3 separate regions of the Homo sapiens genome follow, and all the other regions are reported to be linked to region 1. The links are microRNA targets in miRTarBase. Many come from high-throughput screens and were not tested one by one. Region 1 holds a microRNA gene; each other region holds the end of a gene's coding sequence.

Region 1 (3,253 bases):
TGCAGTGGTGCGATCTCAGCACACTGCAACCTCCGCCTCCTGGGTTCAAGTGATTCTCCTGCCTCAGCCTCCAAGTAGCTGGGATTACAGATGCCCGCCACTACACCCGACTAATGTTTGTATTTTTAGCAAAGGCAGGGTTTCACCATGTTGGTCTCGAACTCCTGACCTCAGGTGATCTGTCCACCTCGGCCTTACAAAGTGCCGAGATTACAGGCGTGAGCCACCGTGCCCAGCCTGGTTATGTTTTTTTCCAGCCCACTTTTAAACCCACCAATGGAAAATGGAACTTTGTTGGCAAAGGTGACTGATATCTTGGCCCCTCTGGATATGGCGGGAAGCCTTGCTAAATACCAGCCTTGCCTTTTCCTCTCTCTAGAGCACAGCCTGCCCCCCTCACCCCAACACACATGAGCACCATGTTGCTTCCTACTGCCAACAGTGCTGGTTTACATTTTGGACTGGGGCAAATGTCATTTGAACCAGAGATTTCTCACTCAAGGTCTACAGTCCAAGGACGCATGTTATAAAGGTCCAGGTCCAGGAAGCCCCTGAAGTTGAATATCAGATTGTGCATGGAGTCTGGGTATGTTTCTGGGGGGAAACCCTGAAGTTGAATATCAGATTGTGCATGGAGTCTGGGTATGTTTCTGGCGGGGAAGCCTCTATAGATTTTATTGCTTCTAACAAGGTCCATGAACCATTCCCCACGCCCCGCCAACCCAAAAGTTATGGCAGCTGCCTTGAAGAAGGGGTGGGGTGGAAGAAAGGGCATGAGCCTGGTCCTCTCAGACCCTCAGTTTCCTCATCTGGGAAATCAAGGTGGTAAAACCCACTCTGCAGAGTTTTCCTGAAGATTAAACCCAATAAACCAAGACATGTACCCACTACATAGCAGAGGCCCAGTGAAACTCCAGTGTAATCCTCATGTTCAAAGGAAGAGGCAGAATAGACGATTCTCCCATTTGGCAATTCCCTTTCCTGGTGGAGAGGAATCTGCTGAAAACCTCAGCCAGCATGCCATCTGCGGAACTCCAGCAGGCTGGAAGCCGGCGTCTCGGGGCCAGAGTATCGGGAGCTGTTGCTTCCTGCCATCCTCCTGACGGTAACTGCCATTTCCTTGGGCTCTTTTTAGATCAAAGGAAGGGCTAGGCTGGAGAGATGAGTGGGGACCATTCAGGGGATGGCACAAGGCGCATTTAGGACGCCTGCTGGCATAGTTTAAAAATAGGCTTCTGTCCTTGGACACCAAGGGGAAGCAACCCCAGGGTTTTCAAGAGGCCTCTGCTGGCCAAGGTTATGAGCCCTACACGGGAGAAAAATGTTTCAGAACGTATTTTCCCAGCTGCCACAGGTAGGTATCTCTGACCCAGGAATAAACCTTTCCTAGTCAAAGGAACTAAATAAGGTGGTTAAAGGAGGAGATCAAGTGTTTAATGAGCACCTACTACATGCCACACACTGTGTGTCTGATGAGTTTGCTTTGTGTCATCCTCACAACAACCTTGCAGGGTAGAGATGATTTTTCCTACTTTTCTAGGTTGTTGGGGGCTGGGGCAGGGGGAACAGAGAAGTTAAGTACGGACCTCAAGATCACACGGACCGCAAGATCACACAGCTAATAAATAAGCAAAACCAGAATTTAAACCCAGGTCTGACTCCAAGCCTGTGCTCTTTTTAACCACCTCTCAAACTGTGATGTAGAAATAAAAAGCATGAAAGAGATGGAGGTGAGGGGCTTACCCAGTGGTTGGACTTGTTATTTCCCATGGGGAAGGGAAGGGAATAGCTGTTTATTTAACATCTACTATGTGCCAGGACTTCTGCCGGGATTTTTCTATGCTCTCATTGCCCCTGCCAGCAGCCTGAGACAGGGGTCTAAGGTCACGTGCCATTTAGACATGACAAAACTGCAGTTCTGGGAGGTACAGTGACTTGCTCAAGGCTCTCAGACAAATCAGTAGCAAAGCACAGGCTTTCATCCAGAGCCCATGAAGTAAATCTCAGAGCCACCCAGGAAGCAGTTCTTATGTTGACCGGCCTTCCAGAAAGACTTGCCAAGGCTGGGCAGTGGTGACCCTGACAGCCAGAGTTCCCTCCTCCCTAACCACCCACAGACACTCATCACCCACCCTCCAAATCTCTGCCATGCATTTCGAGTCTGGGCACTGTTTCCTTGACTAACTGCTGGAAAGACACTGCCCTCTAGTCTTGGTGGGGCTGGAGCAGCCTGTGATTAACCATGGGGGTTAGGCTGGGCATGGTGGCTCATGCCTGTAATCCCAGTACTTTGGGAAGCTGAGGTGGGTGGATTGCTTGAGCCCAGGAGTTCGAGACCAGCCCCAGCAACCCTGACTCTACAAATAATAATAATAGCCGGGTGTGGTGGCACACACCTGTCGTCCTAGCTACTTGGGAGGCTGAGGTGGGAGAATCACTTGAGCCCGGGAGTTTGAGGCTGCAGTGAGCTGTGATCATGCCACTGTACTCAGCCTGGGAGACAGAGCAAGACTCTGCCTCAAGAAAAAACTTAAAAAGCCATGGGATTGACCAGGTGCAGTGGCTCACGCCTGCAATCCCAGCACTTTGGGAGGCTGAGGCAGGTGGATCACAAGGTCAGGAGTTCGAAACCAGCCTGGCCAATATGGTGAAACCCTGTCTCTACTAAAAATACAAAAATTAGCCAGGTGTGGTGGCGGGCGCCTGTAGTCCCAGCTACTCAGGAGGCTGAGGCAGGAGAATCGCTCGAACCCGGGAGGCGGATGTTGCAGTGAGCCAAGATCACACCACTGCACTCCAGCCTGGGGGACAGAGGAAGACTCCATCTCAAAAAAAAAAAAAAAAAAAAAAGCCATGGGATTTGGGCCAGGGCTGTCCCTTCTCCCTTCTATGAACGAGAAGGGCAACTGCAAAGGTCTCCACTGAGTCCCCACCTCACAGAAACCGCACCTCCCCCACTTCTTCTTAGAGTCCCTGGCCTCAATTCTTGGTCAGAAGTGGGGGGCACGGCTCACTGGCTGGGGCCAGCACCCACCCAAGGCCAGCAGGGCCTTGGTCTTTCATGGGAGGATGGCCCAGGGGATTTAGTCGCTGGCGTGGTTTGGGGACCTCTTCCTGGCAAAAGAGGTTTTATTTGTTTATTATTATTATTATTATTATTATTATTTACCAGTGACAGGGTATCTGTATGAGTCTGGTCCTGGTGCCAGAAGCTAAGGATCTCTGCACCCGCAGACTTGGCCATTTTGGGGGA
Region 2 (3,253 bases), not on the chromosome of region 1:
TTGGGCACCTGGGAGGAAGACGAAGGGATGGAGAATCGGGGACGTCTGTCCCTGTTGGGCAGCTTTAGCTGGCATGGAGTGATGTCTGGGCAGGGGCCCCAGGCCCAGCTGCTGTGGTTGTCCATGGCTGAGGGACCAGCTGCAGGAGGGGCAGAGTCCAGGTCCCCCCAGGAGAAGCTCCAGGGCAGAGGTGGTCGGTGCCATCCCTTTTCTTGGGCTCCCCCAGAGGAGGGATGGATGTAGGGCTGGAGAGTCAGGGACAGGGAGACGAAACGGCACCTAGGAGTGTCCGTGAGAGTCCGTGATCGGGCAGGCACAGAGGCACTCAGATCCCCGGCCTAGGGATGGGCCCCCAGACCACCTGGCGACCCCTCCACTCTCATCCTCTGTTTTTCTCTGAAGGACACTCTGGGTGGTGGGTTTGATGCCACCCAGGCATTTGTGGGTGAGCTGGCCCACTTCAACATCTGGGACCGCAAGCTGACCCCCGGGGAGGTGTACAACCTGGCCACCTGCAGCACCAAGGCTCTGTCCGGCAATGTCATCGCCTGGGCTGAATCCCACATCGAGATCTACGGAGGGGCCACCAAGTGGACCTTCGAGGCCTGTCGCCAGATCAACTGAGCACGGCAGGCCAGGCTGAGCCCGCCCGCCCTCGCCCCCTGCTTGTGCGGCGATGATCTGTTTTGTGCGTCTCTTCTCTCCCTTTTCCCCAGGAATGAACCGAGGCCGTCGCCCCTGCACACGCACACGCACACAGCCTGGTTTTGTCCTCATGCACACGAAGCAGCCCCTGCTCCCATCTGTCCCTGAGGAAGCCCCACTTCTCTGTAGGAGCCCGGACTCTCTCAGGCATGCCCCATTCACAGCTGAAGTGGGTGCTGCAACGTCTTGAACAAGGCAGAAGTTGGTGAGAGGATCTGTGTGTGCGTGTCTACATGTGTGTGTCTACGTGTGTGCGTGCGTGGCTGGGGGAGGCCTTTTCTTTGAGGACGTACCTCATTTCCTTCTTTCTTCTGGCTTTGGAAAAATCTCATGATGAAAATTCATATTTGCCAACTTTGTTAGCTGCGTGCGTGCTTTGGGGTTGGTGCAACCTCAGTACACGCATTTGTCTTTGTTTGCAAACCTTTCTCAGAGCGACATATCTTTATATTGATGTAATAAATGTCTTTTAGTGGTTTGTCAAAGGCCGGGGGCGGGGGCTCTCTACAGAGAATTTTTATTTTGTAATAGAAGTGAACTGTCTCTGAAGGGTGAAGGCAGGCCGTCCTGGGATGGTACCCTGTGCTCTCCCGTGGAGGAGAGGGGATGGCTGAGGACACTGGCCCTTACCCCAGGGCCAGACAGCATCCATCCCTGCTGTTTGCATCTGAGAGCAGCATGGGGCCTGGGAGGTCGGCCTGTGTGCCCAGCTCAGCTAGCTCTGCCCCAGGACGGCCCTGCCCTCGACCTTCCCACCTCCTCAGATCCTGCAAGGCTGGGGTCTGCCCCTCCCTTCTCACCTCTGGAGCTGTGCTGCACTGCTTCAGCCCAGAGGGCCCTGAGAGAGGAGCGTGCCACCCACAGCCCGGGAAGCCGGGCCCCAGCACCCCTCTCCTTTGGCCTCCGGCAGTGCAGACCAGAGGGGACCTTTTAAGGAAAGAAGCCGTGTTTCGATGAAGACCTGGCCACATGGGGCCACTGGGACTTCAACCCAGCCCATCGGTGGGAAGGTCCTTTTTGGGGGACTTTGACAGCCATATCCCTCCCAGCACACCAGGCGCCAGGTGAGCTGGTTCAGACCCCTCCAGGGGTACTCCAGAGACCTCACGTGTGGAGCCAGGCCTGGCCAGGGCAGGGGCCTGAAACCCACTCCTCCATCTCATGGGGCTCACGGCCTACAGCAGCCCACAAGCTGCCACTGGCCGGCGACACTGACACCTGAGCAGTGTCCAGAACCTTTTTGCCTTTTTTTGTTCCCCGTGAAAAGCAACATGGACATTTCCTTCTAGTCCTTCCAAGGAGGGGAGAGAAGTGTATGTGCATTTGTGTGTGTGTGTGTGTGTTGTGTGTGTGTGTGCGCTAAGTGAGAAAGAGAGCAGGCTCGGGAGGCCCTGCCCAGGGTAGGAGGAGCTTCCTGCTTTGCACCATCTGGTGGTCGCACGCCCTGAGGGCACCCCGACTCTGTCTCCAGGAGTCTCATCAGCAAACCGCTGACAAGTCTTTCTAGAAATTCTACTGCACTGCCTGGCTCAGCTGCAGCTGCAGACATTTCTGCAGGAGGAGCAGGTGTTTCTGTCTTCTGTTCCTTCTAGGGCCACCTGTCCCCTTAAACACAGGTCCACGTTGTGTCAAGAACCTAGTGCATCTGTGTGTGTCTGTCAGTGTCTCTGTGTCAGTGTTCTCGTGGGTGTCTGCACGGTACCCGGCCGCCGTTCTGCAATGCATCACTCCCGCAGAGGGGGGTGCAGATCAGGCGCCGTGCTGCGCGTTGTTGTTCAACAGTGGCTTTTTCTTAGATAATCGTGCTTCCTCAGCGCCCGTCGGGTTGTGGCATCCTTGGATCTGCAGGGATCTTCTCCGTTTGCATGTTCCTCGGGGTGGCGTGTTCCTTGCTCCCTGGGTCCGACATGTGTTCCCGCACCTGCATGGACTGCCCCGGTTCTGTGTTGTGTGCCGAGTGCCGCCCAGTGTTCTGTGACCACCCGTGTAGCTACTGAAAATGGCTGGGTAAGCAAGTCAAGGGTGTTGGAGGAGGTCAAGAGAGAGCTCAGTTTCCCTCTCCCCCTCCCCAAACACACCAAGAAGCATTTTTAACGTGTAGGTTGAGAACAAGCCTAAAGGATTCCCACAGCTGGGAGCCAGCAAGAGAGCTTGGAGTCGCCTCTCTAGACCAGATCTAGCCCCACCCTCACTCCAGCCATCTCGGAGCCCTTGTGTAGGCAACGCCCGGTGCGGGCTGTGTGGGGTGCTCCCCTGCCAGCACCTCCGGCCAGCCCCGCCCCTGCCGATCTACTGGACCGCAGACCACCTTCTGCCCCCGTGGGCCAGGTGGGAGCTGTCCGTTCAGGACCATGAGCCATCCTCTGCCCTGACTAGCGAGGGGCAGAGCACACCCCAGTGCTTACGCCTCCACCCCTGCAGCCTCCTGGCCCGCTCACCTTCCTCACCCCTCCTCTGACCCACCCATGGTGCCAGGGCCGAAGCTGACCTTTAGCTCCCTCCTGCCCCTTGCTAGGGTCTGAGCCAAGCCCCTCGACTCCCTCACTGT
Region 3 (3,241 bases), not on the chromosome of region 1:
CAGGACAAAAACAAGATCCTCGACAAGTGTCAGGAGGTGATCAACTGGCTCGACCGAAACCAGATGGCAGAGAAAGATGAGTATGAACACAAGCAGAAAGAGCTCGAAAGAGTTTGCAACCCCATCATCAGCAAACTTTACCAAGGTGGTCCTGGCGGCGGCAGCGGCGGCGGCGGTTCAGGAGCCTCCGGGGGACCCACCATCGAAGAAGTGGACTAAGCTTGCACTCAAGTCAGCGTAAACCTCTTTGCCTTTCTCTCTCTCTCTTTTTTTTTGTTTGTTTCTTTGAAATGTCCTTGTGCCAAGTACGAGATCTATTGTTGGAAGTCTTTGGTATATGCAAATGAAAGGAGAGGTGCAACAACTTAGTTTAATTATAAAAGTTCCAAAGTTTGTTTTTTAAAAACATTATTCGAGGTTTCTCTTTAATGCATTTTGCGTGTTTGCTGACTTGAGCATTTTTGATTAGTTCGTGCATGGAGATTTGTTTGAGATGAGAAACCTTAAGTTTGCACACCTGTTCTGTAGAAGCTTGGAAACAGTAAAATATATAGGAGCTTAAATTGTTTATTTTTATGTACTACTTTAAAACTAAACTGAACATTGCAGTAATGTTAAGGACAGGTATACTTTTTGCAAACAAATGCATAAATGCAAATGTAAAGTAAAGCTGAAATTGATCTCAAAGTTACTGTCTTGGAGTTTTCAATTTTCCTTCCTTTATATTTTACCCATATTCGTCTTTTAAGATGTTAGTATGATGTGAAATTTATCTAACCAATCTTGTTTAATTCCCAGATGAGGGTGCTGCCTTGAATTCCAACAACTTAAGGGGAGAAGAATCTGGGTAAACTTCACCCACCCTTAAATACAGAAACCTGACTTGGGGTCTTCCTAGTGTACTCACACTCCTACAACTTAAGTGTCCAAATGAAAATTCACCTGAATATTCCAGGAAAATATGAGCTATATTCTGGGGTTAAATGTAAAATGAGCCTTTAACAAAAGCTGGGCAGAAGTTGTCTTATAATTGCCAAAGGAAATATGGAAACAAATTAATTTTGTGACATACAGGAGCCTGAAACAAGAGACAGCAGGCAAGCTTTCAAGTGACTTAATAGTGAGTATAAATTTAGTCAAACTTGTTTAATTTTCTAGTAAAACAGCTCAACTTCTGAGCTTATGGCAAATTCTAATAACATGTTTCCCGCAGTTAGAATTACTTGGGTAGGGAAACATAATTATTATTATTTTTTTCTGGTTTGGGGATCATAACGTTTTTGCAATACTTGCCTTAAATCACTACGATAGATTTCTTTTTTAAAAGGCAAACTGTACTAGATAGTCTTGTATTTTGTTAATATACAACTTGTCCATTTTCCTCCATATCCAATTTGAGATTGTTATAGATAAGAATATTGCAACCCTTTGGTGATCCACTATCCTGGACTTAATCTTTAAAATTCACATCCTTCAGAGAAAGGAATTCATTTTTATTTTTTAGTGAAATGACATGACTACTCTTTTCTTACTCTCTTTAAGGAGAACTTGAGAGAAATTCAGTAAAACCAATAGGAAAATGCATAGTTAACCTAATGTTTTTACTGCACATAGACGTTTTGATATCTTTCCACATGATGCAGGTTTGCTTCATGCTGCTCATAAGACAATAGTTATGAAAGCTTTATCTTCAATTTAGTAGTGGACCCATCTGTGTCATTCAGAGAGATTAATTTTATGAATAATGGAATGAGTAATAATTTTAAAACTAGCTAAGAAGTTAGCCTAAGAATACTGGCCTTTGGTAATGACCCTTTCATACAAGAGTTGACTCTTAAGTACACATAAGGTGTTTTTTTTTTTTTCCTTTTTAGCAAGCCTCATTTGGGTAGGGGGGAGGAAGATAAATAGCCAACAGTGAAATTGCTTCAACATAAAAACCTTTTTTTTTTTTTAAAGGAAACTGCTTTTTATACTCTGAAAAGCTAAAGATAACTCCAATTTATCAGTGCTGGTGTCACATTGGTGGAAATTTTTCAGCAATGAGCATTTAAGGGTGTTTCATGGACTACAGGCATAAATATGTGACAAACTACTATGGTACTACAAAATCAGGTTAATTGTAGCTTTAGAGTGACGTTTACTGTGAGTTTTACCAAGATAATACCCATTCTGTTACCCTTTTATTAGTCCTTTATTTGTTGAAAGTGTTCATTCCTTGCTCTAACTTCAAAATATAATGGAGTCCTTCTGTAAATGCAGTTTGGTATGACTCATTTTAGACCTCACTTAAGAGATTAGTTTCTAAAGTATCAGAAAATGACCATTGGTAGTTTTTGATCCTACGGCCTGACCTCCGGTAGCTTGCTATAATACTAACATCAATCTGGGCAGATACTTCATTTTCTATTTTGAAAAGTAATTTGTAAAACTCAAATTCTTGAGTTTTACATTCTTGAGCATTCTTGAGAGTGTTTCTTATTTAATTCTCTCTTTTCAAATTTACCAAGATTTGCATATTACCAAGATAAAGCCACCAAAGTAGCCATTCACTTTCCAGGGGTCAGTTGAAACTTGTAACCTGATAACTCCTGGGAACTCCTTAGCAGATGTTAGATCAGCCATAGTCAAATAACAGTGGAAAAAGTACTTGATGTTAGGATGGGGCTAAATTACAGTTTAAGGATTCTCCGACAGGCACTTATCTGAAATTCTTTTTTTTTTTTTTTTTTTGAGACGGAATTTCACTCTTGTTGCCCAGGCTGGAGTGCAATGGCTTGATCTCGGCTCACTTCAACCTCCGCCTCCTGGGTTCAAGCGATTCTCCTGCCTCAGCCTACCGAGTAGCTGGGATTACAGGCATGCACCACCACACCTGGCTAATTTTGTATTTTTAGTAGAGATGGGGTTTCTCCATGTTTGTCAGGCTGGTCTGGAACTCCCGACCTCAGGTGATCCGCCCGCCTTGGCCTCCCCAAGTGCTGGGATTACAGGCGTGAGCCACGCGCCAGCCCACTTACCTGAAATTCTTATCTGAATGTTTGATTAACATAGTTGTCCCTGTTTTGAGGGAACAAATATAGACACCTGTCAAACGAAGACATAACTAGTTGTTTACAGTATTTGAGATGTGTGAAATTTCAAAACAAACTCACTTTAAATTTTTTATAGTATTGATTTGATATGTATAATGAAAATGCATTAAAACTTGTACATTAGGAGATCTTAGTACAATTTACAA

What was found. The annotated mature microRNA hsa-miR-5003-5p reads UCACAACAACCUUGCAGGGUAGA and lies in region 1 at 1,495-1,517, shown strand. An mRNA with a match to its seed (bases 2 to 7 or 8) in the 3' UTR can be bound and repressed. Matches are read on the target gene's strand: a 7mer-m8 pairs with bases 2 to 8, a 7mer-A1 pairs with bases 2 to 7 and ends in A, and an 8mer does both.
Region 2: the mRNA of NPTX1 is a reported target of hsa-miR-5003-5p. Seed matches in the 3' UTR shown: 7mer-m8 at 2,046-2,052 and 7mer-m8 at 2,650-2,656.
Region 3: miRTarBase lists HSPA2 as a target of hsa-miR-5003-5p. The part of its 3' UTR that is shown has no 7-base or 8-base seed match.

Annotation. Positions count from the first base shown.
Region 1 is chr5:172,660,693-172,663,945 of GRCh38, forward strand. MIR5003 (microRNA 5003) reads left to right here and starts at 1,473; the gene lies at 1,473-1,571. The region is part of intron 1 of NEURL1B (neuralized E3 ubiquitin protein ligase 1B); the gene reads left to right.
Region 2 is chr17:80,468,184-80,471,436 of GRCh38, reverse strand. NPTX1 (neuronal pentraxin 1) reads left to right here. Exons shown (of 5, transcript NM_002522.4): 5 at 403-3,253. The coding sequence ends at 624. Among named protein-coding and RNA genes, the nearest start is that of NPTX1, 6.8 kb to the left of the region's middle. RefSeq lists an enhancer at 2,788-3,253.
Region 3 is chr14:64,542,551-64,545,791 of GRCh38, forward strand. HSPA2 (heat shock protein family A (Hsp70) member 2) reads left to right here. Exons shown (of 1, transcript NM_021979.4): 1 at 1-687. The coding sequence ends at 219. Among named protein-coding and RNA genes, the nearest start is that of HSPA2, 3.4 kb to the left of the region's middle.